Regions from separate parts of the Homo sapiens genome. Here region 1 is linked to region 2. Evidence: fine-mapped expression QTL. A gene starts in region 2. The other region holds a variant in brackets. All regions are shown on one strand. Distances are from middle to middle.

Region 1 (16,920 bases), 580 kb after region 2:
CCTCTCTCTGGAGCTGTTCACTTCTAGCAGGCGCTGATAGTCTTGAGGCCGGAAACGCTGTAGATACACAATCAGCTTGGCTGGTGCTGTCTCCTGTGCAGGCACACCTACAGGTAAAAGGACAATGAGGAGAGAAATGGACAGAGCCACAAGCACTTGGACTCTGCTCCCTGCCCACCTAGCCAGGACTCCGTGGATGTTTCCAAAGCCACACTGGGGTTCTGAATGTCACCCACCCAGCTTCTGTAACACACTAGTCCACTCCCTGCCTGCCTGTGGAAGTGGGACCTAAAAGAGCAACTTCAGGCAAGAGTGGGACTAGAAGCCACACCTCAGCCTCTCTCCTCCAGCAAGGAGAAATGGCGAAGAGGCACCCAGGCACCAAGATAAACGAAGGATGCCTCAGCGTCAGCTCATTTCAGTTATTACCCTGTTCCGCAATCAAGATTAAAGCCCTAGACCAGGCCAAAGCTCATTAGCTTAGTAATGAAGCACATGCAGAGATGTACACATAGAAACCAAGAGCTATAGAAAGAAGAGGAGGGAAGCTATAGCCATGGGGTGGGATTCACATAGAATTCTCGCCTCTACATGGTGAGGTGAGAATGGAACTGCCTGTTGCCAGTGTCTTGTTGTTAGTGCCTGGCAGCATGCTGGGCACATAGCAAGGAACTCAGTGTATGTTTGCTGAGGGGGCTCAAACAGCACTGCAGGGCTGTAAGGCCCCATGGGATGCACAATTCCTAGTGTGGATGAACTGTCTACAAGGGAATTATGCTTAGGAACAAATCTGCCAAATCATGCCCCACTGTCTCACATAACTATAATGTTATTGTCCTTTACAAAAAGCCAAAAGGACAAATTAAAAGGATCTAGGTAATTGTAAAACAAAAGGACAAGACTGGTTGGACTCTCAGTGTAGTGGGCAGTGCATCAGTCTCATGATCTGAAGATCCTGGGTCTGAGCCTCCCAGAGGGCAGCTTTTGTAAAAAGGCTTACTTTTTACTCCTTGTGGAGGAGTGGTGACTGAAGAAGAAGAAAAAAAAGAGATTGGGGGAAGGAAGAGTCAAAGCAGGGAACTGAGAAATGAAACTGAAGGAGATCTGGCTATAGGTATGAGAACTAAATGAGGCAGGTTGGCTGGAATTAGACACGTGGAAGGACTAGATCCAAATTAGCTACTGTTAAAGAGAAAACGAGATTTCACAGAACTGTAAGCAAACTTAGAAAATTGCTAAAACAATTCCCATTACAAAAATAATCCAGGCCAGGCACAGAGGCTCACACCTGTAATCCCAGCACTTTGGAAGGCCGAGGCAGGCAAATTGCTTGAGTCCAGGAGTTCCAGACCAGCCTGGGCAACACGGCAAAACCTTGTCTCTATTAAAAAAAAAATTTTTAATCCGGAGGCCCTCCCCCACTGCATGGTCCAGCAGGTGCCTCCAAAAGAGAAAAGTGGGGAGCAGGAAAAGCACAAAAGGGCCTGTCTCCCTCACCAAGCATGCTGCTGAGCCTGTGGATCTTCTCTAGGGCAGTTGGTACTTCAGCCTCCTCATGCACCAGGGCCTCTACCTCACCCACAGCGTAGCCAAAGTCGGCTGTATCCAAGTCCACCCTGAGCTGTGGCTCCTCTTCATCAGCTCCCAAGAGCACCAGCTTCCAGGCACTCCGCTTAGTCACAAAACTAGCTACTTCCTGCAGCCCCAGTGGGCCCAGCACAGCAGCCACATCTCCAGCCCCCAGGCCGTCAGCCCGCAGCACCTTACAGAGTTGGGCCACAATTGTAGGTTCCGCTGTGAGTTCCTTATACTCCGTGTGGGGTCCTAAGACACCTGCTGCTCCAGGACATTTGAGCTCCCATCCACTATCCTCTCGTCGTCGCAGCCAGTGGTCAGCCTGCATGAGGCTCAGCTCAGGGGTGTCATAGTAGGTGTCTCGGAAGGTGACCCGGTACTCCAGGGTGCCCCCCAACTCCTGCAGCCGCTCCTCTGTGCCAGGCCCTGGAAGGAACTTTCGCTCCACCTCAATCAAGCCCTGGGCCATGCTACCTGCAATTGGCTGAACAAACGTTTGCTGAGTTCCCAAGGATGCAAAGCCTGGTGCTCAGCTCCTGGGGCGTCAACTCAGTACAGAACCCCTCCCTGGAAAAACTTATGAGGGGCACACTGTGTCGCAATAGTCTCTAGGGCTACTGCCCTTTTCTCTCTACCTCGGTGACATTAAGGCCCCGTCGGTGATATTTTAAGGCTCTGACAGTGACAGGTCTCCAGTAAAATCCCTTCCACTGCTGCTGATGTCCTCAATCCAAAGAGACCCCTAGAAAGCAGGCCGGGTAGCGGGTGTCCTTTCAACGCCCCCCTCTCTACACCTTGCCACCCCAGGAGGCTACTGGCTCACGACCCGGGAGGACCTGCCCTTTCCTGCTACACTACCGGCCAGCGGAACTTCAGGTCTCACCTCAAAGCCCGAGAGTCTCCTCGCGGGACCCACAGAGGGGGAAGGGAGCCCACGCCATACACTCGCGAGGAATGCCGGGAGCAGTTCCGGATCCCGGACCTCGGCCCGACCCTCCGCGCGCCCGGCAGGTCCCGGCACCAGCGGCCATATTACGCCCGTTGTGGCGGTGCCGAGAGCAGGCCAGGGCTCGAGACACGCGCTATGTAATGGGAGGCCGCGACCCCCGCGGTGGCCAGGGGAGCGAGGCCGCCCCTTGCATTCTGCTCCTCATTGTTGGCCCCGCACGGCTCCCGGGGGCTGGTACAGGTCTCATGCCTGAGGCTGAGCCAGGCACCCCGAGGCGCGGATGCATGATGGGAGATGTAGTTCCAAAGGGAGACTTTGCCATCTCGCCCCGCCCGTCGCTATGGCGACAGGAAAGCTGCACTTGGTGCCTGCGGTACTCTACCTAAAGCTGAACTGGGGCTACAAGGCGGCGGGGAGAGTCGGGTGCAAGGAGCTCAAGCCCCAGTCCCGTCTCCAACACCCCCCGCCGCACCCCCAACGCAGGCAGATGGGCCTGGAATACAAGCCATTCACACCGTCCAACAGATATCTGCTATAGCAGCCAGCTAAGCGCAGGCCAGTGGCAATGGTGGCGAGGGGGGTTGGGGTGGGGGGAGGGAAGGGGGCGGGGGCAGCGCGTAATAAAGTCCAGTTTAGCTACTCTGGAGTTTTAGAGGGGATCTAATACCTCCTGGCATGAACGTTGAGGGTAAGAGTGGGTGAGAAACTTTCTGTCAGAGAATAAAGTGGTATTTTGGCCAGGAACTAAAGATATGATGGTATTTCAACAGTTGGAGACCTAGATGGAGACAGGAATAGCCTAAGCAAAGGCCCAGAAACTGGAGAGCACCTGGGTGGTACGTAAGGAGAAGACGAGGCTAGAAATGCAGTTGAGGGAAAAGCCTTGAGTGCTAGACTGAGGAGTTTGTCAGAGTTTCCAGCGGTCCCTAAGCAGTTTTTGTCAGGTGTAGAACTACTTATGTTCATTTAGAATACAGAAAGGCCGGTGCGGTTGCTCACACCTGCAATCCCAGCACTTTGGGAAGCCGAGGCAGGTGAATCACCTGAGGTCAGGAGTTCGAGACCAGCCTGGCCAACATGGAGAAACCCCCCCGGCCCGCCGTCTCTACTAAAAATGCAAAAATGAGCCGGGCATGGTGGCGCGTGCTTGTGTTCCCAGCTACTCCAGAGGCTGAGGCATGAGAATTGCTTGAACCTGGGAGGCAGAGGTTGCAGTGAGCTGAGATGGCGCCACTGCACTCCAGCCTGGGCGACAGAACGAGACTCCATCTGTCCCCAAAAAAATAAAATTCAGGAAAACATGGGGGTTGGCCCTTTGAATGCTTTGGGAGACAAAATATTAATAGAGATGATTCCTTCTTACTCCCTCTGAGGACTATGGTTATCTGGAGACTCTAACTATATGTCTGACCTTCCATGTGAGGAAGCTCCCTGAGGAACCGTGGCTCTTAACTCCTGGACTCCTTCCTATGATGGGTGAGAAGTGCCATGTTCTCAACACCTGCCCTCTCACCAGTATGTTTCTGGAAATACATGACCAGTGAGAGGTATTATAGGGAGAAGGACACTGGTTTAAAGACATGGCATTTTGGCCAGGTGTGTTGACTCACACTTGTAATCCTAGCACTTTGGGAGGTCGAGGCAGGAGGATCATTTGAGGCCAGGAGTTTGAGACCAGCCTGGGCAACATAGGAAGACCCTGTTTCTACAAAAAAAAAAAAAAAAAAATTTTAATTAGCCGGGTGTGGTAGTGCATGCCTGTGGTCCCAGCTGCTCAGGAGGTTGAGGCAGCGGGATAGCTTGAGCCCAGGAGGTCAAGGGCAGTGAGCTACGATCCTGCTACTGCCTGCACTCCAGCCTCGGCAACAGAGCAAGACCCTGTGCATAAATAAATAAACAAATGGCATCTTGAACTTGGAGTAGCTTGGGTCAACCTCTGTCCCCACTCCATGTTAAGCACTGTTGGTTAGGGAGAGAAGAAACCCCAGCTCCTAAAGCCTGCTTTTCATCCATCTTTTGCTTTCCGGTTTTGTTAACCTGGGATGAAGACCTAATTTTTCCTTATGTTATAAGATCCAATCCAGTGGGGCAAAAGCAGCAGCTTATTTGAACAGAAAGACCAGTTTCCGGAGCCAGACCTGAGGTCGACTCCCAGCTTCACTTTCTAGATGTTTGGCCTTCCGCAAGCTACTCCACTTTCCTAAGCATCTGCTTTTTTTTTTTTTTTTTTTTTTTTTTTGAGACAGAGTCTCACTCTGGCGTCTCAGCTCACTGCAACCTCTGCCTCCTGGGTTCAAATGATTCTCCCGCCTCAGCCTCCTGAGTAGTTGGGACTACAGGCACGTGCCACCCCACCCTCCTAATTTTTGTTTGTTTGTTTGTTTGAGACGGAGTCTCGCTTTGTCGCCCAGGCTGGAGTGTAGTGGCGCCATCTCGGCTCACTGCAAGCTCCGCCTCCAGGGTTCATGCCATTCTCCTGCCTCAGCCTCCCAAGTAGATGGGACTACAGGTGCCCACCACCATGCCCGGCTAATTTTTTGTAATTTTAGTAGAGATGGGGTTTTACCCTGTTAGTCAGGATGGTCTCGATCTCCTGATCTTGTGATCCACCCGCCTCCACCTCCCAAAGTGCTGGGATTACAGGTGTGAGCCACCACGCCCGGCCTGTTTTTGGTTTTGAGACGGAGTTTCACTCTTGTTGCCCAGGCTGGAGTGCAATGGTGTGATCTTGGCTCACCGCAACCTCTGCCCCCCGGGTTCAAGCGATTCTTCTGCCTCAGCCTCCCGAGTAGCTGGGATTACAGGTGCCCACCACCACGCCCAGCTAATTTTGTATTTTTAGTAGAGACAGGGTTTCACCATGTTGGTCAGGCTGGTCTCGAACTCCTGACCTCAGGTGATCTACCCACCTCAGCCTCCCAAAGTGCTGGGATTACAGGAGTGAGCCACCATGCCCGGCCAGCCTCTGCTTTTTCATTGAGAAAATGTGGCCTGCCTCACAGTTACCTGTGAGGATTCAGTCATAAACTGTCACATAGTATAAACTCAAAATGTTCATTTATCTCTCCTTTTTGTCATGTGAACTTCAGGGTTTTGTTGTGTTGTTTAAGAGAAGTAGGCTATAGCAGTTAGTATGGGCCCTGGAGCCAGACCATGGAGGTTTTTGAGTCCTGGCACTGTCACTTACTTATTGGCCATTGGACCTTGGGCCTGTTAATTCACTTGTTTGTGCCTTAGTTTCCTCAATAAATGAGACTATAATAGCATCTACCTCATGCTTGAGGTATTGAGAGGAGTAAACAATGTATGTAAAAGTGCTTGGAACTGTCCCTGTGCATTCAAGAAATCTTAAAAATTATTATTAGAATACAGGAGCGGCCGGGTGAGGTGGATCACCCCTATAATCCCAGGACTTTGGGAGGCTGAGGCCGGTGGATCACCTGAGGTCAGGAGTTCGAGACCAGCCTGGCTAAGATGGTGAAACCCCCGTCTCTACTAAAAATACAAAATTAGCAGGGCATGGTGGTGGGCACCTACAATCCCAGCTACTTGGGAGGCTGAGGCAGGAGAATCACTTGAACCTGGGAGGTGAAGGTTGCAGTGAGCCGGGATCATGCCACTGCACTGCAGCCTGGGCGACAGAGTGACTCTGTCTCAAGAAAAAAACAAACAAACAAAAAAACGGGCTGGGCGCGGTGGTGGTTCACACCTGTAATCCCAGCACTTTGGGAGGCCGAGGCAGGCGGATCACAAGGTCAGGAGTTCGAGACCAGCTTGACCAACGTGGTGAAACCCCGTCTCTACTAAAAATACAAAAATTAGCTGGGTGTGTTGATGCATGCCTGTAATCCCAGCTACTTAGGAGGCTGAGGTAGGAGAATCGCTTGAACCCGGTGGTGGAGGTTGCAGTGAGCCGAGATCGCACCACTGCACTCCAACCTGGGCGACTGAGTGAGACTCCGTCTCCAGAAAAAAAAAAAAAAAAAAAATTCAGGAGCACTTAATAAGCGATAAACTGAAGATGAGGAGGAGCCCGAACCTCCCCCAACCCAGCTCAGGGGACTATGTAACCGTGTGGAGGAGGCAGAAGCTCTCAGAGACTAAAGAGTAATTGCTGCGGTAGAGAAGGTTCTAGTACCCAATTTCGCGGGGGGAGATGGGGGAGGCGGAATAATAAGGCAGGAAGAAGAGAATGAAAAAAGGAGGCCTTGGGCGGCTCAGGGCTTGTTCTGAAGCTGATTTAAAACAAAACAACAAAACACATGTATGGTTTCTGCAGGCCACAGGATGAAGAGGAGAGGAGACGGAAAAGAGTTTAAAGGGGCCTGCCCTCTTTGCAGGCACCGGCTTGAACCTGGAGGCGACCTGGTGGGCTGGCCGGCCTGCCCCCGGCCCTGGGTCCCGCGAGGCAGGCGGGCGGGCGCGAACAGACTACAACTCCCGGCATGCGCCGCGGCGGGCGGGTCGCTGCACCTGCTCAGTGGGGCAGCCCCGGGCGCCTGGGTATTGATTATTCCATTGTGTGGGACGCCTAGACTCCAGCCAGTGAATGAGGCGGAGGAGTGAGGGCGAGGAGGAGGAGGAGGAGGAGGGCGAGGAGGAGAAGGAGGAGGAGGAGGAGGAGGCAGGGAGCGAGCGAGTGCCCAGGGTGAATCAATGGAAACCCCCTCACGAAGCCGGGGAAACACTTCAGCCGCAGCCAAATAGCATTGATTATTTTCCTTCACTTCCCTCACCGCCGTGAATTTATTTATTTATTTTTTTCCGTCTCCGTCCCTGACGCCCCGGAGCGAGCGCTGGAGGGAGGGAGGAGGAGGGGAAAAAAGAGGAATCAACACATCGGAGAAGTCCCTTCCAAGAGCCGCCCCCTCCCCTCCCCGCCTCGCGCTGCTCGGTGGCCGCGGTTCGACTCCCGTCCCTGCTTCCAGCTGAGGTGTAAGTGCATCGATTTCCGATGCTGCTGGGTTGGTTTTTTTCTCCTCTCCCTCTCTCTCTTCTTCCCTTCCTTGCTCTTTGGAAGCTCGAGACGGGAGAGGAGGCGCTTGGAGACTGCCGCTGGAGGGGACGGAGAGGGACGGGAAGGGGCTGGGGGAGGGGACAAGGACGGACGGACAGACAGACCGAGAGCCCTGGGAGATAGCAGACAGGGGTGTGGGAGGAAGAGGGCGTGCGCGAGGATGGGGGAAGAGAGATGCGGGGGTGGAGGGAGAAACGGGAACGGGAAAGGCAGAGGCCCGC[C/G]GGACAGACGAAGGGTATGGAAAGCCTAGACGGACCGCGCCGAGTTGGGCAGGGAGCGGGGATCCCGGGGGGAAGGGGAGGCCCGGTGAGTGTGAGGGCTCAGAGCTGTCAGCCTGGAGGGTCCTGGGTCTCGGCGGCCCCCCGCCGGCTGTGGGATGGGAGAACCGCGGCCGGCGGGCTGATGGATGGGCTAGCGCGCTGGGGCGTGGAGTGGGAGGGGACGTGGATACTCTCAGTCTTCGTTCGTTTTTGGCTGAAGTTGGGCTTTCCATTCCTTTTTTTGAAAGTGTTGAGTAGGTGAGGGGAGGCCATAAGCCCATTCAAGGTGAAGCGTGTCTGTCCTGCACGCCCATCCTACCACCCCCATCCGCTCGTCTGCCCCTCTGAGCAGCCCTATCATTTTCAAGCACAGGACCACGCTTCCTCGCTGTGCCTGTAGCCCCGCTGATCTCTGTCCATGTGTCCCTGACTTTTGGTTTTGCTGTTCTTCATCTTGTCTCTTCCATCCCATCCATCTCTGGATCTGTATGTCACTGTCTCCACTTGTGACCCTTCCCATCTGAGTGATCCTCTCCTTGTGTGTCTCTATCACTATGTGTCACGCCTTGGCTGCCTGTTCTGTCGGTCTAGGATTCCATGCCCTCTCCTTCAGAGTCTGTCTGGATATCTCTGGCCTTTTCAGGCTACTTTGGAATTTGCTTATCAGTCATGATTGTGGTGGTCACAGTCAGGGCCTGGAGGAGTGGGATGATGGAGCAAATGTGTCTTCGCCAAAGCCTCTAGTGCCTTCAGCATGGCCAGGACAGCCTCCTCTTCCACCATCACCAGAGAAGCTTTGGAACTTCCTAGCATTGTTGACTGTCCCCTTTGCCATGTGCCTGTCTCCCTCATCAGAACCTCACCTTCTGGTCTCATGCGTGTCATCTGCCTTTCCAGGAGCTTCGCACAACAAAACCTCTTCCCTGCTGACTTAATTTTACTCCCTTCCCCCACTGTATCATTGTATATTTTTTATTTCCCCATTTTGCTTCACCCCTTTTTTCCATCTGTTTCCCATGAGCTCTGAGTTTCCACCTTTGTTCCCATAATCTGCCCTCTTCCTACCTTTTCTTCTTGATCACCCTAAGTTTCTAGTTTCTTTTATCCCTTTTCCTCTTATCCAGCATTTTAACCCCAGCAGCAGAAAGTACCAGCAAGCAAAGGGCTGGGAGAGGTGTGGGGTATGGTTTGTGAAGGCACATAAACAGGCCAAGAAATAAATTTAATGAGCTTCCAGGGGCATATAACCCCTCCATCAGTCAGTGCCATTATGTCAGTTAACTGTCAACTTTGATTTTGTAAGGGGACATTCCCTAGGACTCTAAGCTCCACCCTGCCTGGTTGCCCCCCATCCTTCAGTTCATTCTAGATATCAGTTGCTTTTTCTTCACTTTTTAGTTCATCTTCTTCCTAGGCCCCTGCTACTATCATATTTAGATCCAGCACCATTTTTTTTTAATGAGGCAGTGTTTATTAGTGTAATAAAAGCTATCGTATGTAAGGAGCCAAGTTCATTTAGCCTGAAGAACAGTAAGGGTGGATAAAGGATCTGGAGAGTTTACCTTAGTTTTTAGCCCATCATTGTTTTTCCAAACCTCAGGAGCTTGGAAAGGTAAAAGGAGCAGGCAGACATGGGCAGAAGATGGACGATTTCAGAGGTGAACAGAATTAAAGAAAGAAAGGGGTGGTCGGTGCAATAAACACATGGGGTAGAGAAATGTATGACGTGAGGGATGTGCAAAGGAAGGGAGGAAAATCTATGCGGACTCGGGGGCAGGGGAGGAACCAAGGGGTGATTAATAAGAAATTGGAAGAATGAAACAAAACGTGTTGATAGCAATACAGAAGGTAAAAGGAAGAGAAATGATAGAATATTCCTAAAGTGGAGGTCAACAGAAAAAGCACTATGAAATTAATACAGTAGTAAAGAGGGGGAAGGGAGGAATTGCTGAACAAGATGAGATGGGAAGAGAGTATGGTACAAAGAAGGTAAATGGATGGCAAACGAAGGAGTGCTGAGGCAGATCAGAGCTGCACAGAGCTTGGTAGGAGGAAAAGAGGAGAGGATGAGGTATCAAAGGAAACAAATGCCTCTGGTGTGAGGAGGACACAGCGTGACTGATGCGAAGAGAGCGAGAGCACTGCGGGGGCGCCGGGGGGTTGGAAAAAAAGCATAGCACAAATAGCAGGAATACCACTGGGCGAAGCCCCAGAAGAGAGAAATGCCCAAGAGAGGGAGAGAAAGCAGAAATATCCAGGGAAGAGACAGAGAGAGAGAGAACCTCACGAGCATTCATTTCATTGGCCTAATCACTCACTACCCCCACGAAAGGCCTTTGTATTTCATTCCCAAGCCAGAACACAAGCAAAGAGATGAAAAAGTAGAATTCCCATAAACTTCAGCTGAGAGGAACTTGAATCTTCCCAGCCCCTGAGAACCAAAGACCTCAAGCCTCTGATGTCATAAATTGCTGGTATTGCCTTGGCAACCTGACAGGGTTCCTCCCTCCATGATGTCAGAGGCAGCTGGTGTTACCTTGAGACCCATACAGGAATCACTTGCTGCTTTGCCGGGGTGCTGTATCACCTACGGGCCAGGGCCTGGGTCGAATTGGTAGGATTTCTGACTCTGGTAGCTTGACCTTGCCTCCCTGGAGCTCTTCCCAGCTCAGAACAACAGTTGTCACAAATAACTCCTGTTTGTGAGCACCTGAGGTTTGCTAGAGCCTGACAGTAGCAAGAGGAAGGAACCTAAGACAGGGCATTGAGGTCAGGATGGTTGGATCAAAAGGCAGGCAGAGACGGAAGAGGAGGACTAGAAATGGCAGTTACAGAATGTGAAAGGAGAAGGGCTTTGTGAGTGGGGAGGAGAGTTGTTGAAAGTGTAATGGCTTTGGGTTTAGGAATGGAGACTAAAGCTAGAATGCAGAGGGAAGGGATCGGGGCTGTGTGAGTGTAAACTCATTCAGGGATTGAGAAAAGGGAAGGGTTGTGAAATGCCAGAGGGCACAGTGGAATTTGGCTGTACAGAAAGGGGGGAAATGGGACAGAGTCCCCTAGTCTGAGAGACTTAGCTGTCTGGTGAGAGACTCAGGGTTAGTCACATGGTCATCTGAGGAGTGGCTACATCTGTCTAGTTTCCAATTGTTTTCCAGCACCTAGCACAGTGTCTGTCACACAGAAAAGGCTTAATAAATATCTACTGATCAAACGTTGAATTAGTAGGGAGAGGCTGGGGGAAAGAGTTGCCCACCTAATTTTCACCCACTCCCCCCACCTAAGTCTACATTAATGGGCAAACTGGGAAATCAGAAACCGGAGGGAATGGCTGGAGGGTAGTTAACCAGTGACAGTGAGATCTGAGGCAGACAGGAGAGACTGGGTTAGGGTCACACTTGGAGGCAGCCAGGGGAACTCTCAGGGCTCATGTGCAGAGTCTTTGTAGTGATAATTGGAGGAAAACATGAATGAACAGCCCTAGGAGCCCAAGAGGAAGATGTGGAGGAGGGAAGAGAAAGGAGGCGGTTTCCAGAAAAGGTTGAGAGTTGTTTCCAAAGAGAGAGTTGGCAAATGTGAATTAAAAGTAGCATCCCCACCCCATTCCCAATCATGAAACTACAATTGAATTGGTCATAACCGTATATATACAATGGCCGCAAATAAGGAGTTCATAAATCAATACCAGACCCATTCTAAACACCTATCCCAAGCCAGGTAATTATTAATACAACGAAGGCAGCATTGGCCATGTGGGCCAAAAGGCCAAAGGAGGGAGAAGTTACTGCTGCCCAGATCTTGATGTAAAGAACCCTGTGAGGGATGGCCTTGACATCTGACTCTCCATTGTTGAAAGACTCCAGAGGTATCTAGAAGAGGGGGAGGCAAGAGATGTAAAACTCACCACAACTCTCAGAGCAAAATCTGCAGAAAGAGGAGGTCTAAATACACAGAAGCTATAGAAAACAAACATGCACCCAATCAGGAATCACGAGGTGAAGGGCCAAAAAGCCCCTGAATGGGTTGAGAAATCTACAAAAGAAGACAGGGGAGAGAGCTGGGAGTGCTGGAGGACAGTCTGGCTATAATAAGCAAGGCCAGGGCAGCTAAAGAAGGGGCTGGTGGGCGGGGGGCCTGAAGGAAGGACAGTGGTGGCTGTTGCACTGTCAGCCACCGCCACGGAGTTGGGCAGCTCATATTTTGCAGCAAGCGACAGGCTGTCGACACAGTGGTCCTTTACCTCACCGTTAGAAACTCATTTCATTGATTTTTCCATCTTTCTTCTCGAGCTCCTCACACTAAGCTCGGTCAGCCCACCACCCACTTTCCCAGAGCCCCTTGCCTCTCTGGGGAAAGTCCTAGGGAACTGCCTGCCCATCCCTCCTCCCCAGGCTGGCAAGGCAGGGGTGAAAGATTTAGAAGTAACTTCCAGCCCCGTAGGGTAATCCCATGGGCTCTCAGTGGCTTCCTCATGTAGGAACTAGTCCAGAGACCAGGGTCCTCATGTGCAGTTGTTAAGGGGTGACAGGGCTGAGGTCCACCCACAGTCCTGTCACCAAGCTGTACCACTGGCATGGGGGCTGCATACACCTGGAGGAAGATATATTTTTCTAATTTCTACTGAGATGCTCAGCACCCCTCAGCATTTTTTACCCCAAAGTCTAATGAGAGAACAGGAGCCCTCTTTCTGTATTTGGCAGGAACACAGGATTACATCAAAGCTAAAGTTCAGGCCTTGGAATTCCCAGCAGGACCATCAACTGGAATGTCGCATGCACAGGGGCCTGTGCAATCAGAAAGACATGAATGTTCCAGGGTGTGCAAGACCTCTCTGCAGAGCAGTTTATGCATGGAGAGTCTGGTCCTGTGGAGCACGTTGATGTGCAAAGTCAGTGGGGCAGAATGGGTGTAGGCAGGAATTTAACTTCATGTATGCACATTTCCCTAGTGCCTCCTCCAGTCATAGCTAACTGCCCTGGACCTCTCCCTTTGGGGCTGGGCTTGGGCTAGAGGTCAAGAGTCAATTACCAGTCATTTGGCTTCTCAGTGAAGGAGGGCAGAGGGTGGGCCAAGAGTGTTAGATTGTGTTTCCCCGAGGACCTGATGGGGTAAACGCCATTTCCATCCTCAGATTTTTCATTCCTTGTTTTGTGATGCCCTTTTCTTTCCCTAATCTCAAGCCTCTGTCTTCTTTATTCCTGGGCCATGGGCATGGGTCTAGATTTTGCTGCTTCTCTTGCCTCCATCACAGTTGTCTGCATTTCCCCCCAGCCATCTCTGTGTTCTGTATCAGTGGTCTGCTTGGGCCACAGATGCCTTTCTTCTCATCTCCAGCTTCTTCAGGCTATGTGGTTTCCACAAACCTACAGATAAATCCTGCTGCTTTAGGGAAAGAAGTGCACTTGAAATTAGAGAGAAGGCCAGGGAAGGATGAGAAAGAGGTTCTGGAAAGATTAGGCAGGGAGAAGTTGGGAGAGAGTATGACAGAGATAGGAGTCAAAGGTGAAAAACCCATGACTTGGAGATGGGAGAGAGCACAGAGAGATGGCCACAATTTAAATGAGAAAGGAAGGAGTGCAGTAGGCTGTGAGGACTAAGAAATTGGAGAGCAAACAGGAAGCCTGACCCCTCCGCAGGGAAATGAAGACAGCTGAGGAGGGCGGACGAGTGGTTGTGTAAGAAGTAGGGCTGAAAAGCCAGGCCATGGTCTCGGCCTGCGTGTCAGTCCTGAGTTCAAGCAGTGCTGGCTTTGACCCTTATGGGAGGAACTGAAGTGGCAAATTAACGACGATAATGAAGTCACTGCTCCTTGTTTGTCTTTGCTGGTTTCCCCTTGAGATTTGTCCTTTGGCCAGACAGGGCAATGTGGGGGAGGGGAGGAACTGGAGCCGTGAAGGGCGGGGGAGAGGGAAGGAAAAGAGGATGGAGAAATGGCAATGTGGAGGACAAATTGACTAGAGGAGAAAAAAGGGAGGGTGATGAGTGAAGAGAAGAGGAGCCCAGAATCGAAGAGAGAAGCGGGAAGGGAGACATGAAAGGAGAATGAAAGAGGAGAGGGGTGCAGAAAAACGGCCAGGGAAAAGAACAATGGGGGACAGGAAAGGGAAACCTGGTAGGAGGAGCAGAAAAAAAAGGTGGGAGAAGGAGAAGTGGAATGGAGAAATGGCGAGCCGGAGGGAAAGAACGTGGCCAGGGCTGCAAAAGCTGCAGCTGGCAGGGCCAGTGGGCGGGGCCTCATCTCCATCTCTAATGGCTGTGAAATGAGGTTAGCGCCATTAGAGGCAGCGAGAGTGTAACGAGATCACACTCATTAGGGCTGGGCCATCCCAGTAATTACCACCACCCTAAACACGCCCGCGCCAGCCGGGCCAACCACATACGGGCTCACAGCAACACACTGAACAGGATACCCTACTACTGAAAGGGAAGCACAGGGCCCACACACGTGTACATGGAGGGCCTGGGAAAATCCAGCCAGGGAGAACAAGCACCTTCACCAACCCCAAAGAAGTACTGGGACAGGGCTACAGCCAGGTTACCAGCTGCCCCACATACAATCAAAAAACAACATACACATACCCCAACACAGGAAATAAGGCATATGGATGAATAATTATTCCATTTCCATTTATTGATACACCCAAAGTGCCAATCTCAATGATGATCCTCTCAATGGACTCAACTCCATGAGTTCCCCATTCCCTTTTTTTTTTTTTTTTTCTGTTTTCTGTTTCTGATGTGTTTGTTTTTAGACAGGGTCTCACTCTGTCACCCAGGCTGGAGTGCAGTGGTGCAATCTCGGCTCACTACAACCTCTGCTTCCCGGGTTCAAGCGATTCTTCTGCCTCAGCCTCCTGAGTAGCTGGGATTACAGGTGCATGCCACCACGCCCGGCTCATTTTTTTTGTATTTTTAGTAGAGACAGGGTTTCACCGTGTTGGCCAGGCTGGTCTCAAGCTCCTGACCTCCAATGATCCACCCACCTCGGCCTCCCAAAGTGCTGGAATTATAGGCGCGTGCCCGGCCTGCCCCATTCTCTATATGAAGAGACTAAATTGAGACTTTACGCAACTTACCTGAGGTCATTTACATATTAAGAAACAGAACTAGAATTTGATTCCAGGTCTGTCTGACTCTAAAGGCTATTTTTTTTTGTTTTTTGAGACAGGGTCTCCCTCTGTTGGAGGGAGAGTGCTTGTCTGATGAAGTTCATATGCTAATATGGATACACATGTGTAGACCTTCAACTTTAAGAGATGTTGTCACAAATGGGTACACATATCATTCAAAGAACACTACCCGCCATTATCTATCCCTTCCCTCCTGTTCCCACTCCCTCCCTCCCGCTCCTTCCCTTCCTTCACACAGGGCATGGCCAGTGCCCCTGCATGGACTGCAGTGTGAATGACGCACCCTGGAGTTGCGCAAAGCAGTGCTCCTCTTCTGGTCCATCTTATACTAAGAAACAAACCAAATGGAAGACAGCCATCTAGCACCTTCAGGCGGAACATGATAGCACATATGCTCAAGGTGACACACAGAGTAATACAATCAGACTCAAAAGACCTCATTCAAAATGCATACCAGCCAGAGTTCAGAAGCTTACAAATTAACCCAAGAGCAGAGGTACTGACATCAGGCTACCTGAGTTCCAATCTCAACTCTACTTCTTTTTAAGCAGGAGATCTTAAAAATTACTTAACCCATCTAAATCAGTCTCCATGTTTGTAAAATAGGAATGAATAGCTACATCTATTGCATCAGATTGAAGTGGAGGATTAGGTGATGTGATACTTGCCGAGGGCCTAGCACGGTGCCTGGCCCATGGCAAACATTTAAAGATGTTAGCTATTTACTATTATTACAATTAGTTTTTGTTGTAATACTATTTAAATGCAGTCATTACATCACACAGGTTCACAGAATAAAATAACCAGAAAGACTTATTTACATACACGGTCACTCAGAATGTTTTCCTTCCAGCCGGGCGCAGTGGCTCACGCCTGTAATCCCAGGCCAAGGTGGGCGGGTCAGGTAGTCAGGAGATAGAGACCATCCTGGACAACATGGTGAAACCCTGTCTCTACTAAAATACAAAAAATTAGCTGCTTGTGGTGGTACGCGCCTGTAATCCCAGCTACTCGGGAGGCTGAGGCAGGGGAATTGCTTGAACCCAGGAGACAGAGATTGCCGTGAGCTGAGATCACACCACTGCACTTCAGCCTGGCAACAGAGACACCATCTCCAAAAAAAAAAAAGAATGTTTTCCTACCAAGTTCTGGGAGACCAAATTCTTCAGCGGTCCCCCATGCAAGGATCAGATAGGATCCTGATTCTGAATTTAAGGGGACAACTCCCTGAGTGCTCATACAGAAGAAGGGTTCCGAGCTGGTTCGTGGTTGTCTAAGCCTGTGGTATGTAGAACGAGAGAACCACATCTAGCAGGATGTGAGTCTCTCCAGTGTACTATAAAATCACATAGATCTGTGCAGCAGAGCAGCTCCACACTGCTGTCCTAACACATCCAACACTTTCCAAGTCATCAAGGGAGATGCCTCCTCTCCTGGACACCCACCCCCATCAGTAGCAGACACTCTGCAGCACACCTCAGCAAATCCATGCAAATGTGAACGTGTGTGGTTTCAGCCTACCGCTTCCCTTCTCCTCCTGTCTGCTCCCTACCACCCCCATCTTCTTCCTGAGCCTACCCTTTTCTCCTCACACCTCACCCAATCTACTCATGCCCACCTTAAGCATCTTGCAAAGTGCAAGAGACAGCCTCCTTGCCACCTCCTTCTCACTGGGGACAGGCCACCATCCCAATCTGGTGCCAGAGCTGGGAGGCCTGGAAAAGATTCAATATATGCAAATCAAGACCTAGCTTCATCTTCCTCTTCACTTCCTTACCTCTCCCTCTCTCCTTCCCTTCTTCCTCCCTCCTCTTCTCTGCCTTAGCGATCTTTCTTTGCCCTTTACAACACTCCTTTTCCTGCTTGTCTCATTCCCTGCCATACTCGTTCTTTCTCTCTCTTTTGGACAAAACTTATTTGCACAAAGTAAGCTCTCCTTAAATATTTATAAAAGGGGAAGGGTCTAGAAGAGATAGGTAGAATTAAAAGGGA
Region 2 (13,581 bases):
AAGGCAGGCAGATCACTTGAGGTCAGAAGTTCGAGACCAGCCTGGCCAACATGGTGAAACCCTGTGCCTACTAAAAATACAAACACTAGACGGGTGTGGTGGTGGGGGCCTGTAATCCCAGCTACTCGGGAGGCTGAGACAGGAGATCGCTTGAACCTGAGAGGTGGAGGTTGCAGTGAGCCAGAATTGCACTCCAGCCTGGGCAACAGAGTGAGACTCTGTCTCCAAAAAAATAATAAAAATAAAATAAAAATAAAAATGTAAAAAATGTTTTACCTTTTAAAAAAAATTTTTATACAGACAGGGTCTCACCATCTTGCCCAGGCTGGTCTCAAACTCCTGGGCTCAAGTGATCCTCTTGCCTCAGCCTCCCAAAGTGCTGGGATTACACTGCCATCACTGCCAGGTCTCTGTCTTTAAAAAAAAATTATATATATATTATATATGCAAATATTATATATAAAATATATAATAATATATATAATATATAAATATATATATTATACATATATAATTATTAGCTCGCAGGTCATACAAAACTGGCCACAGGAGGGCCAAAGTTTGCTAATTCCTGGTTTAGAGGATAGATGATATACCCATATTATCTAGCTTTGTAATCATGGCTCCTCTGTTTATTAGTTGTGAACAAGTTACTTAACCTCTGTGTCTCAGTGTTTGCAACTGTACAATGGGAACACTACTATCTCAATTTTTTTTTTTTTTTGCCAATCAAGATCAGTACAACCTACCTCATACTTTTATTGTTGTGAGGACCAAATGTGTTAACTTTTTTTTTTTTGAGATGGAATTTCACTCTTGTTGCCCAGGATGGAGTGCAGTGGTGCAACCTCAGCTCGTTGCAACCTCCGCCTCCCGGGTTCAAGGGATTCTCCTGACTCAGCCTCCCAAGTAGCTGGGATTACAGGCGCCCGCCACCACACCCAAGTAATTTTTTTTTTTTTTTTTTGTATTTTTAGTGGAGATGGAGTTTCACCATGTTGGCCAGGCTGGTTTTGAACTCCTGACCTCAAGTGATCTGCCCACCTCGGCCTCCCAAAGTGCTAGGATTATAGGCGTGAGCCACCGCGCCCGGCCATATGCGTTAACTTTTATAAAGAACTTACAGACACTTAGAACAGTGTCTGGCACAGAGTAAACGCAGTGCAAGTGTTTTGCTATTATTTGTGTGATCTATTATCTGCCTTCCCCAGTTAGCTCATATGCCTCCAAACAGCAGAAATCTTGTCTTATTTACATGGCATAGAACTATGCTCAGCTCAATAAACATTTGTTAAATAGATGAGCACATACAGACCCCCTACGGGGAAGACAGGGTAGGAAAAGTCCCTGCGAGGAGTGCCCAGATAGGTAGGCCCCTGAAGAGAGGGAGTGGAGATTCAGTGGAGAAGGCAGGAAAAACAATCAAACAGGCTGGAGATGGAGCAACTGCTCAGCAAGAATGATGCCCACACCTAAGGGCATTACCTTAGAAGCACCATTCCTGGATGTCTCAGTCCCCAGATAGCCTGAAGTCTGCAAAAACTAGGAGACTGAAAGGACAGCTGGAGGGATGGAGGTCAAGCATAAGGAAGGACATTCAAGGTTGATGAGAGCAAGGAATGGCTGGGGAACCCTAGTGACTACCAGACCCTCTTCCCACCCTTTCAAGGACCCAACCAAATGATGAGAGGAGCCACAGCCAGGCCCGATGGTTTTTATTTCTTTCAGTTATGCTTGCGGCTGGAGTGGGGACGGGGGAAGAGCCCATGGCCTGGGCTCCCTGGAGACCAGGGCTGATGATACCAGCTGCCATAGGTGAGGTACCAGGCAAAGGTGCCCACTGCGGCGCCCACCACCTTGTGAGTGTACTGGTGGAAATAGATGACGGTACAGAGCAGCAAGAAGTTCCAGAGGCCCAGCAGCAGCACGTTCAGCAGGAAGACAAGGCGCAGTGGGGCGCCGGCAGGAAGCCCATGGGCCAGGTACTTGGCGAACACAGCTGCTTCCTCTGCCATGAGCAGGCAGCAAAAGGTGAGCAGGAAGGTGTGGGAGGAGACGGTGTAGCCTCGCCACTGGTGGCCGGCTGCCAGGCAGCTGCGGCGGTCAGGCAGCTCGTGGAGCAGCAGACCCTGGGGCAGTGGCTCGAAGCAGGAGCCAGTCAGGTCCTCGATGAGCAGGAAGGCCCGGCCGGCTCCCCGCCACACGGCTGCCCCTACTACCAGTCGGCTCAGGTGTCTGGCAGTTACTGCCACGCGCCGTGTAGCCAGGAACACCACCAGCAACACAAAGCCCCCTAAGAAAGTGCATGTCCAGCCCCAGGCTGAATTCACAAATTTTCTGTGGGCAAAGAAGGGAGACTATTGAGACCCCAAGCTCCATCTCCCACCCTGGTCTGTGCTCCCATCACTGCACTCTCCCCAACCCTACACATCATCACTCGTTCTCTCCTTGCCGTGCCCTTTACAGCCCCCAGTCATTTAACCTTTGCTATCTCCTTGGAAGACAATTCAGCATTCCAGGGTCCATATTTCCTCTTTAGTCCTGTTCCCAACTTCCCCTGTACCCCAGGGCTCTGTTCCCTTCCCCCTCCCCCGACCTTTTCCTCAACCTCCTAGCCTATTTTTAGTGTTCAGACTGGCAGGAGGACAGAAGCCTGGAGAAGGGAGCTAGGATCCCAGAGTGCAGGGACCCGGCTCCCACAGCCTTGAGTGGACTCACATGTTGAAGAAGTTGCCGTGGCTGGCGAAGATAGTCCGAGGGTTGACATGGAACTGCAGAAGCGGCCCAAAGATGACCACTGCTGCCAGCCAGGCATGGTAGAGGCGCCGTAAGCAGGGGCTGCCCAGAAGGCGGGCGGCCTGTTCGCTTCCAAAGTACAGCAAGGCAGAGGCCACCCAGAGCAGCACCTTGAGCAGGCAGCCCAGCAGTGCCTGGATTCGGGCCCCGGCCCCCAGTCCTGCCCCCACCACCGGCCCCCGCTCCATGTTCCCTCCCCTCCCCACTAACTGCTTGCTTTGCTGGGCAGCTGAGGAGGGGCTGATGGGGCCCCCCCTGGACAAGGATAGGCAGTGACAGGTGTGGCAGACACAAGGCAGAGCCCTGTTGGCAGCTGGCAGGTGGGGGAGAGGGGCGGGGGGCAGTAAGGGGCCAGGGTGGAGGTCTGCCACGTCAGCAGGGTCCTGGCCTCGGGTGTGTGGTAGTATGTGTCCTGACAGCAGTCTGTGTCCTTTCCTGTTAGTCCTGTGTCCTTGGCTCCGACCATGTTCCAGTTCCTGTGACAGGGCCAGCTGTTCAGGGCTGTCCTTGTCCATAGTCTGCCAAAGTCCCTCTCCACCCACCCCTACTTTACCATTTGCTCCACAGGGAAATCAGAGGTCATGGAGATAAAAATAACCAAACCTTGAAAGTCGTTTTTTAAAAAAAGCTGCCAGTCTTATCAGTGTGATCTAGCCCTTCTCCTGGGGTTCTGAGCACAAGAGCCCACCAACAGCAGGATGCAGCAAGGTGGCTGTGCACAGCACTGTGGCCATCATAGGCCTTGGGAGGCAGATCAGCATGGGTATCCACTTCAGTGCCCTGTGACCCCAGCAGCTTGGCTCTGCCCTAGTTCCTGTCTGGATTGAGGGTCTCTAAGGGACTAGTTTGGCCCAGGGCTGCTGTATAAACTGGCGGTTTCATCTGTTGATCACGTTGACCCTCAGATCCCTAAAGATTAGGTTTACTCCCAGGTGACAGAGGTAGAGGAGACCCTAAAAGGGCAATTGCCAGACAGGAGTCAATTGAAACCTTAAGTTCCATCCTCCAACCAACTACCCTGGGCCTCAGGGCTCTCCATATAAGCCTGCCCTCCCAGTCTGACTGCTGAGGCGGCGACAGCAGGGCAGTCAGCTACCTATCCACGGAGAGTGCCTGTTAGTCAGTAACTGTTTCGAGATCACTTTTTCTTTCTTCCTCATTCCTCAAAACCAGTGGTGGGATTTCAGAGCACAGCGGAAGTAGTGAAAGGAATGAGCAAGCAAGGACACCTGAGTTCTGGGCCCAACTGTGTGACTTTAGGAAAATCAATGAACCCTCTTCAGTCCTCAGTAAATCAATTTCCTTTATAAACTGATCAAGACAGATTGGATAATCAATCAGATTCCTTCCAGATCCTAAAGCCCATACCTTGGAATAGTGACCTTCAATGAACCCTATAAAAGAATTTTGAACTAGGCTGGGCATGGTGGTTCACGCCTATAATCCCAGCAGTTTGGGAGGCTGAGGTGGATGGATCGCCTGAGGCCAGCCTGGCCAACATAGTGAAACCCCGTCTCTACTGAAAATAAAAAAATTAGCTGGGCACGGTGGCGGGCGCCTGTAATCCCAGCTATTCTGGAGGCTGAGGCAGGAGAATCGCTTGAACACGGGAGGCGGAGGTTGCAGTGAGCCGAGATTGTGCCATTGCACTCCAGCCTGAGCAACAACAGCAAGACTCCGTCTTAAAAAAAAAAATTCTTTCCACTCATTTTTATTTATTAAAGTTTTATGATTTATTTTTTTGAGACAGTGTCTCACGCTTGCCCAGGCTGGAATGCAGTGTGCTATCACGGCTCACTGCAGCCTCAAACTCCTGGGCTCAAGTGATCATCTGCCCTAGCCTCCTGAGTAGCTAGAACTACAGGAATGCATCACCATGGTTGGTTATTTTTTATTTTTTGGCCAGGTGTGGTAGCTCATGCCTGTAATCCCAGCACTTTGGGACCAGCCTGAGGAGCCACAGGAGTTCGGGACCACCTTGAGCTGGTCTCACACAGTGAGACGCCGTCCCTACAAAAATTAAAAAAATTAGCTGGGCATAGTGGCACGTGCCTGTAATTCCAGCTACTTGGGAGGCCGAAATGGGAGGATCACTTGGGCCCAGGAGGTTGACATTGCAGTGAGCCGTGATGGCACTATTGCACTCCAAGCCTAAGCAACAGAGTGAGACCTTGTTTCAATATTTATTTTGTAGAGACAAAGTCTCACTAAGTTGACCAGGCTGGTCTTGAACTCCTGGCCTCAGGTGATCTTCCTGCCTTGGCCTCCCAGAGTGGTGGGATTACAGGCATGAGCTACCATGCCTGGTCTCATTGTGGTTTTAAATAGTTGCAAAGGACATAATTTCTAGTGTATCATATACTGACATTTCAAAATAAATCCATTATATCACTGTTTCAAATGTATCCAATGAAATGTAAATACTACAGTGATTAGATACTTCACCTTTATCCATTAAAACATGACAAGATTTTACATCAGAAATTATATTTCCATTCTACTCCCTCACAGAATTTATCCTAATATGTTTTTATGCCTGAAAGTCTTTTATTGACCATTTATCACATTTCTCTGCAAGAAAAGTAACTCAAAAAATTTAATTTTTTGTTTGTTTGAGATGGAGTCTCACTCTGTCGCCCCGGCTGAAGTGCAGTGGCACGATCTTGGCTCACTGCAACCTCTGCTTCCTGGGTTCAAGCGATTCTCCTGCCTCAGCCTTCCAAGTAGCTGGGATTACAGGCGCCCGCCACCACCCAGCTACTTTTTTTTTTTTTTTTTTTTAGTAGACATGGGGTTTCACCATGTTGGCCAGGCTGGTCTCGAACTCCTGACCTAGTGATTCGCCTGCCTCGGCCTCCCAAAGTGCTGGGATTACAGGCGTGAGCCACCGTGCCCAGCCAAAAAATTTAATTTTTTATAGTTTCTGGGCCCAGTGTGGTGGCTCACACCTGCAATTCCAGTCCTTTGGGAGACCATGGCAGGAGGATCACTTGAGCCCAGGAGTTCTAGACCAGCCTGAGTAACATGGTGAAACCTTATCTATACAAAATATACACAAATTAGCCAAAGATGGTGGCACCCACCCAGCTACTCAGGAGGCTGAGATGGGAAGATCACTTGAGCCCAGGAATTTGAGGTTGCAGTGAGCAGTGATCACACCACTGCATTCCACACCACTGCACTCCAGCCTGGGCAACAGAGCAAGACTGTCTCAAAAAATAAAAATAAATAAAATAAATAAAATAGAAATGTCCTGTGACCATAAAGCCCTAAGAGTTAATTTTTTTCCTATGGATTCTATTTTCATTGTAACTGTTAGTAGTCTAAAATATATTATTAGTACATGAATACCTTAGTTTTTGGGGTTTTTGAGACAGGGTCACTTTCTGTCAGGAAAGTGAAACAGTCTTATTACTGACATGGAGAAAGTTTTAGTGGTCTGGGTAGAAGATTAAAGCAGCCACAACATTCTCTTAAATCAAAGCCTAATCCGGTGGCATGATTGCAGCTCACTGCAGCCTTGACCTCCCTGGTTCAAGTGATCCTCCTCTCGCTGAGCTGGGACTACAGGTGCAGGCCACGAAGTTTGGCTAATTTTTAAATTTTTTGTAGAGACAGGGGTCTCACTATGTTGCCCAGGCTGGTCTTAAACTCCTGGGCTCAAGTGATCCTTCTGTCTTTGCCTAAAGTGCTGGGATTACAGAAGTGAACCGCTGCACCTGTCCAGGAAAAGTTCTTAAAGGAAATTAAAAGGTACTACACTTCAGTGAACACATGAATGATACAAAAGTGAAATAGCCTTATTGCTGATATCAAGAAAGTGTTAGTGGTCTGGATAGAAGATCAAAGCAGCCACAACATTCCCTTAAACCAAAGCCTAATCTGGAGCAAGGCCCCAACTCTTTTTTTTTTTTTTTTTAAGAGACAGTGTCTTGCGTTGTTGCCCAGCCTGGAGTGCAGTGGCATGATCATGTCTTACTGCAGTCTCAAACTCCTGAGCTCAAGCAATCCTCCTGCTCTGCCTCCTAAGTAGCTGGGACTACATGTGCATGCCAACACTCACTATGTTGCCCACACTGGTCTCCAACCCTTGGCCTCAAGTGATCCTTCCATCTTGGCCTCCCAAAGTGCTGGGATTATAGGTGTGAGCTACTGAGCCCAGCCTATTCTCTTCAATACTATAAAGACTGAGAGTGGTGAGGAGGCTAGGAGAGGTTGGTTCATAATGCTCAAGGAAAGAAGCCACCTCCATAACATAAAAATGCAAGGTGAAGCAGCAAGTGCTGATATAGAATCTGCAGAAAGTTATCCAGAAGATCTAGCTAAGATCATTGATGAAGGTGGCTACACTAAATTACAGATTTTCAAAGCAAACAAAACAGCCTTCTATTGGAAGAAGATGCCACATAGAAGTTTCACAGCTAGAGAGAAGTCAAGGCCTGGCTACAGAGCTTCAAAGGACAGACTAACTCTTTTTATTAGGAGATAATGCACCTGGTAACTTTAAGTTGAAACCAATCCTCATTTACCATTCTGAAAATCCTAGGGCCTTAGGAATTATGCTAAATGTATTCTGCTGTGCTCTATAAATAAAACAACAAAACCTGCATGACAGCACATATGTTTGCAGCATGGGTTACAGAATATTTTAAGCTCACTGTTAAGATCTACTCCTCAGAAATAAAGATTCCTTTCAAAATATTACTGCTCATTGACAATGCACCTGGTCACCTACAAACTCTGGAGATGTACAGGGAGATTAATGTTTTCATGCCTGCTAACACAACATCCATTCTGTAGCCCATGGATCAAGGAGTAATTTTGACTTGCAAGTCTTACTTTTTTTTTTTTTTTTTTTTTTGAGACTGAGTCTTGCTCTGTCGCCCAGGCTGCAGTGCGGTGGCGCGATCTCGGCTCACTGCAACCTCCGCCTCCCAGGTTCATGCCATTCTCCTGCCTCAGCCTCCTGAGCAGCTGGGACTACAGGTGCCCACCACCACGCCCAGCTATTTTTTTGTATTTTTAGTGGAGACGGGGTTTCATTGTGTTAGCCAGGATGGTCTCGATCTCCTGACCTCGTGATCCACCCGCCTCGGCCTCCCAAAGTGCTGGGATTACAGGTGTCAGCCACTGCACCCGGCCAAGTCTTACTCTTTAAGAAATACATTTCGAACCCCGTCTCTACAAAAAATAACAAAAACGAGCTGGATGTGGGTGGTGTGTGCTGGTAGTCCCAGCTACTTGGGAGGCTGAAGTGGGAGGATCGCTTGAGTCCAGGGGGAGGCAGAGGTTTCAGTGAGCTGAGTGCACCACTGCGCCTGAGCGACAGAGCAAGACCCTATATCAAGCAAAAAAAAAAAAAAGAAAAAAAAAAACATTTCGTAAGACTGCAGCTGCCATAGTGATTCCTCTGATAGCTGTCGACAAAGTCAACTGAAAACCTTCTGGAAAGGATTCACCATTCCAGATGCCATTAAGAACATTCATGGCTAGGCACAGTGGCTTATGCCTATAATCCCAGCATTTTGGGGGGCTGAAGTGGGAGGATCGCTTGAGCCCAGGAGTTTGAGAACAGCTTGTGCAACAGGACGAAACCCCATCTCTACAGAAAACACAAAAATTAGCCAGGTGTAGTGGTGGGCATCTGTAGTCTCAGCTACTCAGGTGGCTGAGGTGGAGGACTGCTTGAGCCAGGAGAGGTCCAGGCTGCAGTGAGCTGAGATCATGCCACTGCACTCCAGCTTGGGTGACAGAGTGAGACCCCGTCTCAAAAAAAAAAAAACAAAACAAAACAAAATTTTTTTTTTCCCCAGAGTCTCACCCTGTGGCTCAGGCTGGAGTGCAGTGGTGCGATCTCAGCTCACTGCAACCTCCGCCTCCCAGGTTCAAGCGATACTCCTGCCTCAGCCTCCTGAGTAGCTGGGACTACAGGCGCCTGCCACCACACCTGGCTAATTTTTGTATTTTTAGTAGAGACGAGGTTTCACCATGTTGGCTAGGCTGGTCTTGAACTCCTGACCTCAGGTGATCCACTGCCTCGGCCTCCCAAAGTGCTGAGATTACGGGCATGAGCCACTGTGCCCAGCCTAAAAACAACATAACTTTTATATGCACTGGGAAACCAACAAAATTGACTCGCCTTATGCAATATTCACTTTATTACAGTGGTCTGGAAATGAACTCACAATATCTCCTAGGTATGCCTGTACAACAAACATTTTACATTACTTCGATAACATAAAATTATATTGTAAATGCATCTCTTACTGAGAATGGTCGGTCTGTGGGGCTTTGATCTAATGAAGCTATAAGGATACTAACAATTTGAATTTCTCTCTTAATTTGGTGCCCTGGAAGTAACACAGGTTCTGGGTGAGATGGGTAGCACCTTAGGTAACTTTATCACTTGGCAGACGGGGAATGAAAAGCGTGGATGGGAAAGGAGATCTGGCACGGGAGTTTCACACTAGGTAGATCAATTTGAGGAATGAGAACACAGAAGCCAAGGATCTGAACATTTATTTATTTATTATTTATTTTTGAGACAGGGTCTCACTCTGTCACCTAGGCTGGAGTACATTGGCACAATCACGGCTCACCGCAGCCTTGACCTCCTGGCCTTAGGTGATCCTCCCACCTCAGCCTCCTGAGTAGCTAGGACTACAGGCATGCGTCACCACATCTGGCTAATTTTTTTTTTGAGACAGAGTTTTGCTCTCGTTGCCCAAGCTTGAGTGTAATGGCATGGTCTTGGCTCACTGCACTCAGCTCACCTCTGCTCCCAAGTTCAAGCGATTCTCCTGCCTCAGCCTCTCAAGTAGCTGAGATTACAGGCACCCGCCACCATATCCGGCTAGTTTTTTTGTATTTTTAGTAGAGATTGGGTTCCACCATGTTGGCCAGGCTGGTCTCAAACACCTGACTTCAGGTGATCCACCTATCTCGGCCTCCCAAAATGCCGGGATTACAGGTGTGAACCACCGTGCCCGGCCTACTTTTTGTATTTTTTGTAGAGATGGGGTTTTGCCATGTTGCCCAGGCTGGTCTCAAACTCCTGGGCTCAAGCGATCCATCAGCTTTGGCTTCCCAAAGTGCTAGGATTACAGGCATGAGCCACCACACCTAGCTTGTTTATTCTTTTAAAACTGCCTATTTTGCCATGAAATAGGTACCCTTGCTGTGAAAGCCTGTGAACACCCCTGGATGTGTGTACCTTCATTTAAAAACTGCCTTAGAGGGCATGAAATGTCATCAGGGAAGATCTATTCCGAGCTGGGTGTGAGCTCTAGCCCTCTCCCTGACCATCGGTTTGCTCTGGGGTATGAGGTTCTGAGTGTGAGGCGCCCACTGGGGCCTGGCGTCAGGGCCGACTTGCTTCTCTTAGGCTCTGCGTTCAGGGGCTACCTCTTCCAAAGACTACACAGCTGCAGGCCCAGCCTCAGAGCAGAGGTGATATGGGTATTACCAGGCTCTAATGGAAAGTGTGCTCTCTCGATATCTACTTGCAGGGAAGCTTCTGAAATTGGTAAGGGAGCACCTATTGCAAGGCTCAGTGAACAAATGGTTTTGGTATTTCCCTTTTTCATGGGGCACCAGAAGGGTATTTTCTCCTACACAGGATCGCATCTGAAGACTTTGCTGAACTGTGTTTTCCTGAAGTGAGGAGATGAAAGACCTCAGATAGGAAAAACAGAGAGTGAGAGAGAGAGACAGACACTGAGCCAGGTTCCCACACAGTTTATTGAGGGAGCCAAAGCCAGTGAGAGGACGAAGGAGTCCTACTTCAACCTACTTCCTTAAAGCTGTGTGCCTCCAGCATGAAGGGACCTTCCCAGAGGGCAGGGCCTGCCCTATAAGGGGCCACATGAAGCCTTGTGGAGACTCCTGCCTCTCATACCACAGCCTGTCCTACCCTAAAGACCCAGACATGACAGCAGACATAATCCCCACCCCAGGAGGGTGCTGAGGAAACACCCTTACCCATGCCCCTCCCCTAGAGACCTCAGGAAGAAAGGCCAGGACACCTGTCCTGTGATTGGCCAGTTGAATCCTCAACGTGAAGACCTGGCAGGCCTGGCTGACAGGTCTGTTCAGATGTGGCCTCAGGCATCTACTCTAGGATCCAACCCCTAACATTCAAACATGATTAAAAACACCCAGGACACTTCTCTTGCTGGCAGAGGCCACACCCCAGATAATGGCAGTCCTGCCAAACTCTGGCCAGAGATAGGGACCCAAGCTGACTGGGTGTGAGCACGTAAGGAGACCACTCTGCCCCATGGGGAGAATCTTCCAGGGCTCAGCTGAGGCTCAGAGCCCAGGCTTATGTTATTCCCCATCAAATGCCAGTGATTCCTCCAAACATTCCCCACAAGGGAGAAAGGGAGGAGGAGGCAGAGAGCTTATCAAGAGGTTCACCCTATATGGGGCTGGAGGTTGGATCTACTGGGGTGAGGAAAAGGGTGTAGAGGATTGGGGCACTGGGGCAGGGGCGCTGGCACATTCCTCAGATTCTGGCATGTCATCCTGGAAGTACTCAGCCTGGCGGTACTGCCACAGACGCAGGTTCCCGTCCCACTGCAGGGCAGAGGGTGGCAAGCAGTCAGGATGTGCTGCCCCCACCCAAGTCCAAGCCCCAGACATGTGCCAGCACCCTCAACCCTTGCAACCTCACCGAACTGCTGACAATCTTCTCTTCAAAGGGGTGCCAACTGACGTCACGCACACAGGCCTTGTGGTTGGTCAGCTTCTTCACAATGTGGCCACTTAGAAGGTCGTACACTGTCCAGGACAGGCAAGAGTGGAGAGGGACCACCACAAGACATCTAAACTATCCCTCACCTCCCCATGAGTAGCACCACTGACCTGCCTCTCAGGCAACTTCCCATGTTCCCATGGGAGCAAAGCCCACACCAGAAGACTGTGTTATTTCTGCTTCTATCCCTGTTCCTTTCCATACCTTGGGTTGAGGGTATGGTTTAGTGGTGTGGGTATGTCTGGCCCTTAGCTAAATTTCATAGGGGCTACAGTTAAGGAAATGCACTGGCTTTGAAGATTTTAGTAAGATATGGAAGGCACCACAAAAGTGAACAATGAGCTGTCTGGGGGTGTGTGCACCTGCTGCACCTTATCTGGACAGGGTGCATCTTTCTTTTGTCATGGGACTGTGAGTGTCTCTCTAGGGACAGCACTGCCTTAGGCTCCTTGTATCTGCAGCTGTGCTTCTGGTTTTTTTTTTCTTTTTCTTTTTTTTTTTTTTTTGAGATGGAGTCTCGCTCTTGTTGCCCAGGCTAGAGTGCCGTGGCGCGATCTTGGCTCACTGCAACCTCTGCCTCCCGGGTTCAAGCGATTCTCCTGCCTCAGCCTCCTGGGCTCAAGCGATTCTCCTGCCTCAGCCTCCCAAGTAGCTTGTGATTACCAGCGCCTGCCACCATGCCTGGCTAATTTTTGTGTTTTTAATAGAGATGGGGCTTCACCATGTTGGCCAGGCTGGTCTCAAACCCCTGACATCAGGTGATCTGCCCGCCTCGGCCTCCCACGGTGCTGGGATTACAGGCATGAGCCACCGTGCCCGACCTTTTTTTTTTTTTTTTTGAGACAGTTTCTCACTCTGTCACCCAGGCTGAAGTGCGGTGGCACAATCATGGCTCACTGCAGTCTCGGGCTCAGGTGATTCTCCCACCCTAGCCTCCCAAGTAGCTGGGACTACAGGCCTGTGCCACCATGTCCAGCCATTTTTTGTAGAGACAAGGTTTCTCCATGTTGCCCTGGCTGGTCTCAAACTCCTGGGCTCAAGTGATCTGCCCTCATTGGCCTCCCAAAGCCCTGGGGTTACAGGCATGAGCCACTGCAGCCAGCTTATTTCTTTCTATGCTTTTCTGCTTTAGCGACTGCATGTCCCTTAACTACTTGCTACCATCTTCCTGTGTCATTTTGTCTCTGTTCCCTCCTACCTTTCATCTGCAACCTCTTTCTTGACTGGCTGAAAAACAGAACCAACTATATTTTTGGCAATCTATTATATTTACTGTCTAGAATTCTATGTTCCTTTTCTTAATTTAAAACACTGAAAAATAGAATGGTTTCTATTTCTCTGTTTAAGCCTCCAAGCTAAGTTTGATTTTACCTGTAGCTGTCACTGGGCTTTTTAAGGTGGTCACTAGTCGTTATAGGTGGAATGGCAAGGAGTCATTCCTGCCCTTCCTGAGGCCCCCTGTTCTGACACAATCCTTACCAACCACTTTGCCAGTGGAGCAGCCACTGTAGATGAACTGCTGGCCAGTGCTATGAATGGGGGAGAACCGGCAGCGGATGAGGGTGTGCAGCACTCCGTGGCCCCGGTAGGTCATCAAGGAGCTGTCCCCTGGGAGCTTCAGCTTCCGCCAGGCTGGGTAGGGATGCAGAGTAAACCCTAGGTTAGGAAATCTGCTTTGGGATTGTTTCGTACCACCAGTCCTGAGCAAGGTTCGATGCCCAGAGACAAATGCCTTTCCAATCTTCAAGTGGTGGCTCTTTCTCCACCTAATAGTCAGTGGACAGTCTCCAATATGGCCCTGCCGGTTAATCATTACACTCACATACTTTTATATTGGTTGATTCTGAGTGACCCCCACCCAGGCCCCAATCCTAGGAACCTCTGGCCATTCCATCCATGATTTAGCAAATAAAGAGTTAATGCCTGGCAAAGAGGGCTGAGGGGGAGGTCCTCCAGGGCTCCCAGGCTACAGACAAATCCACTGTGCCTGTACTTCCAGTCTCACCTTTTTTGGGCACTTGCTGCCACCG

Which allele goes with the higher level. Positions count from the first base shown, and alleles are read on the strand shown. Sizes are in standard deviations (SD) of each study's normalised expression.
For the expression in cerebellar hemisphere of the gene that starts at base 3,889 in region 2, allele C in region 1 goes with a higher level than allele G (large effect, 0.85 SD a copy in GTEx).

Evidence for each region. PIP is the estimated chance that this variant, and not a neighbour inherited with it, causes the effect.
Region 1: its variant is fine-mapped to the expression of FITM1 in cerebellar hemisphere (GTEx, PIP above 0.99).

Annotation. Positions count from the first base shown.
Region 1 is chr14:23,541,882-23,558,801 of GRCh38, reverse strand. It overlaps ZFHX2 (zinc finger homeobox 2), which reads left to right and starts at 7,037. Exons shown (of 10, transcript NM_033400.3): 1 at 7,037-7,459. It overlaps THTPA (thiamine triphosphatase), which reads right to left and starts at 2,531. Exons shown (of 2, transcript NM_024328.6): 1 at 1,498-2,531; 2 at 1-107. The coding sequence starts at 2,044. RefSeq lists enhancers at 1,489-1,538, 2,399-2,658, 6,684-6,733, 7,583-8,245, 10,369-10,992 and 2 more and a silencer at 6,864-7,103. The variant C/G (reference allele first, on the strand shown) is at 7,763.
Region 2 is chr14:24,120,967-24,134,547 of GRCh38, reverse strand. It overlaps FITM1 (fat storage inducing transmembrane protein 1), which reads right to left and starts at 3,889. Exons shown (of 2, transcript NM_203402.3): 1 at 2,719-3,889; 2 at 1,701-2,337. The coding sequence starts at 2,984. The coding sequence ends at 1,725. DCAF11 (DDB1 and CUL4 associated factor 11) reads right to left here. Exons shown (of 15, transcript NM_025230.5): 12 at 13,557-13,581; 13 at 13,031-13,183; 14 at 11,471-11,577; 15 at 9,306-11,373. The coding sequence ends at 11,239.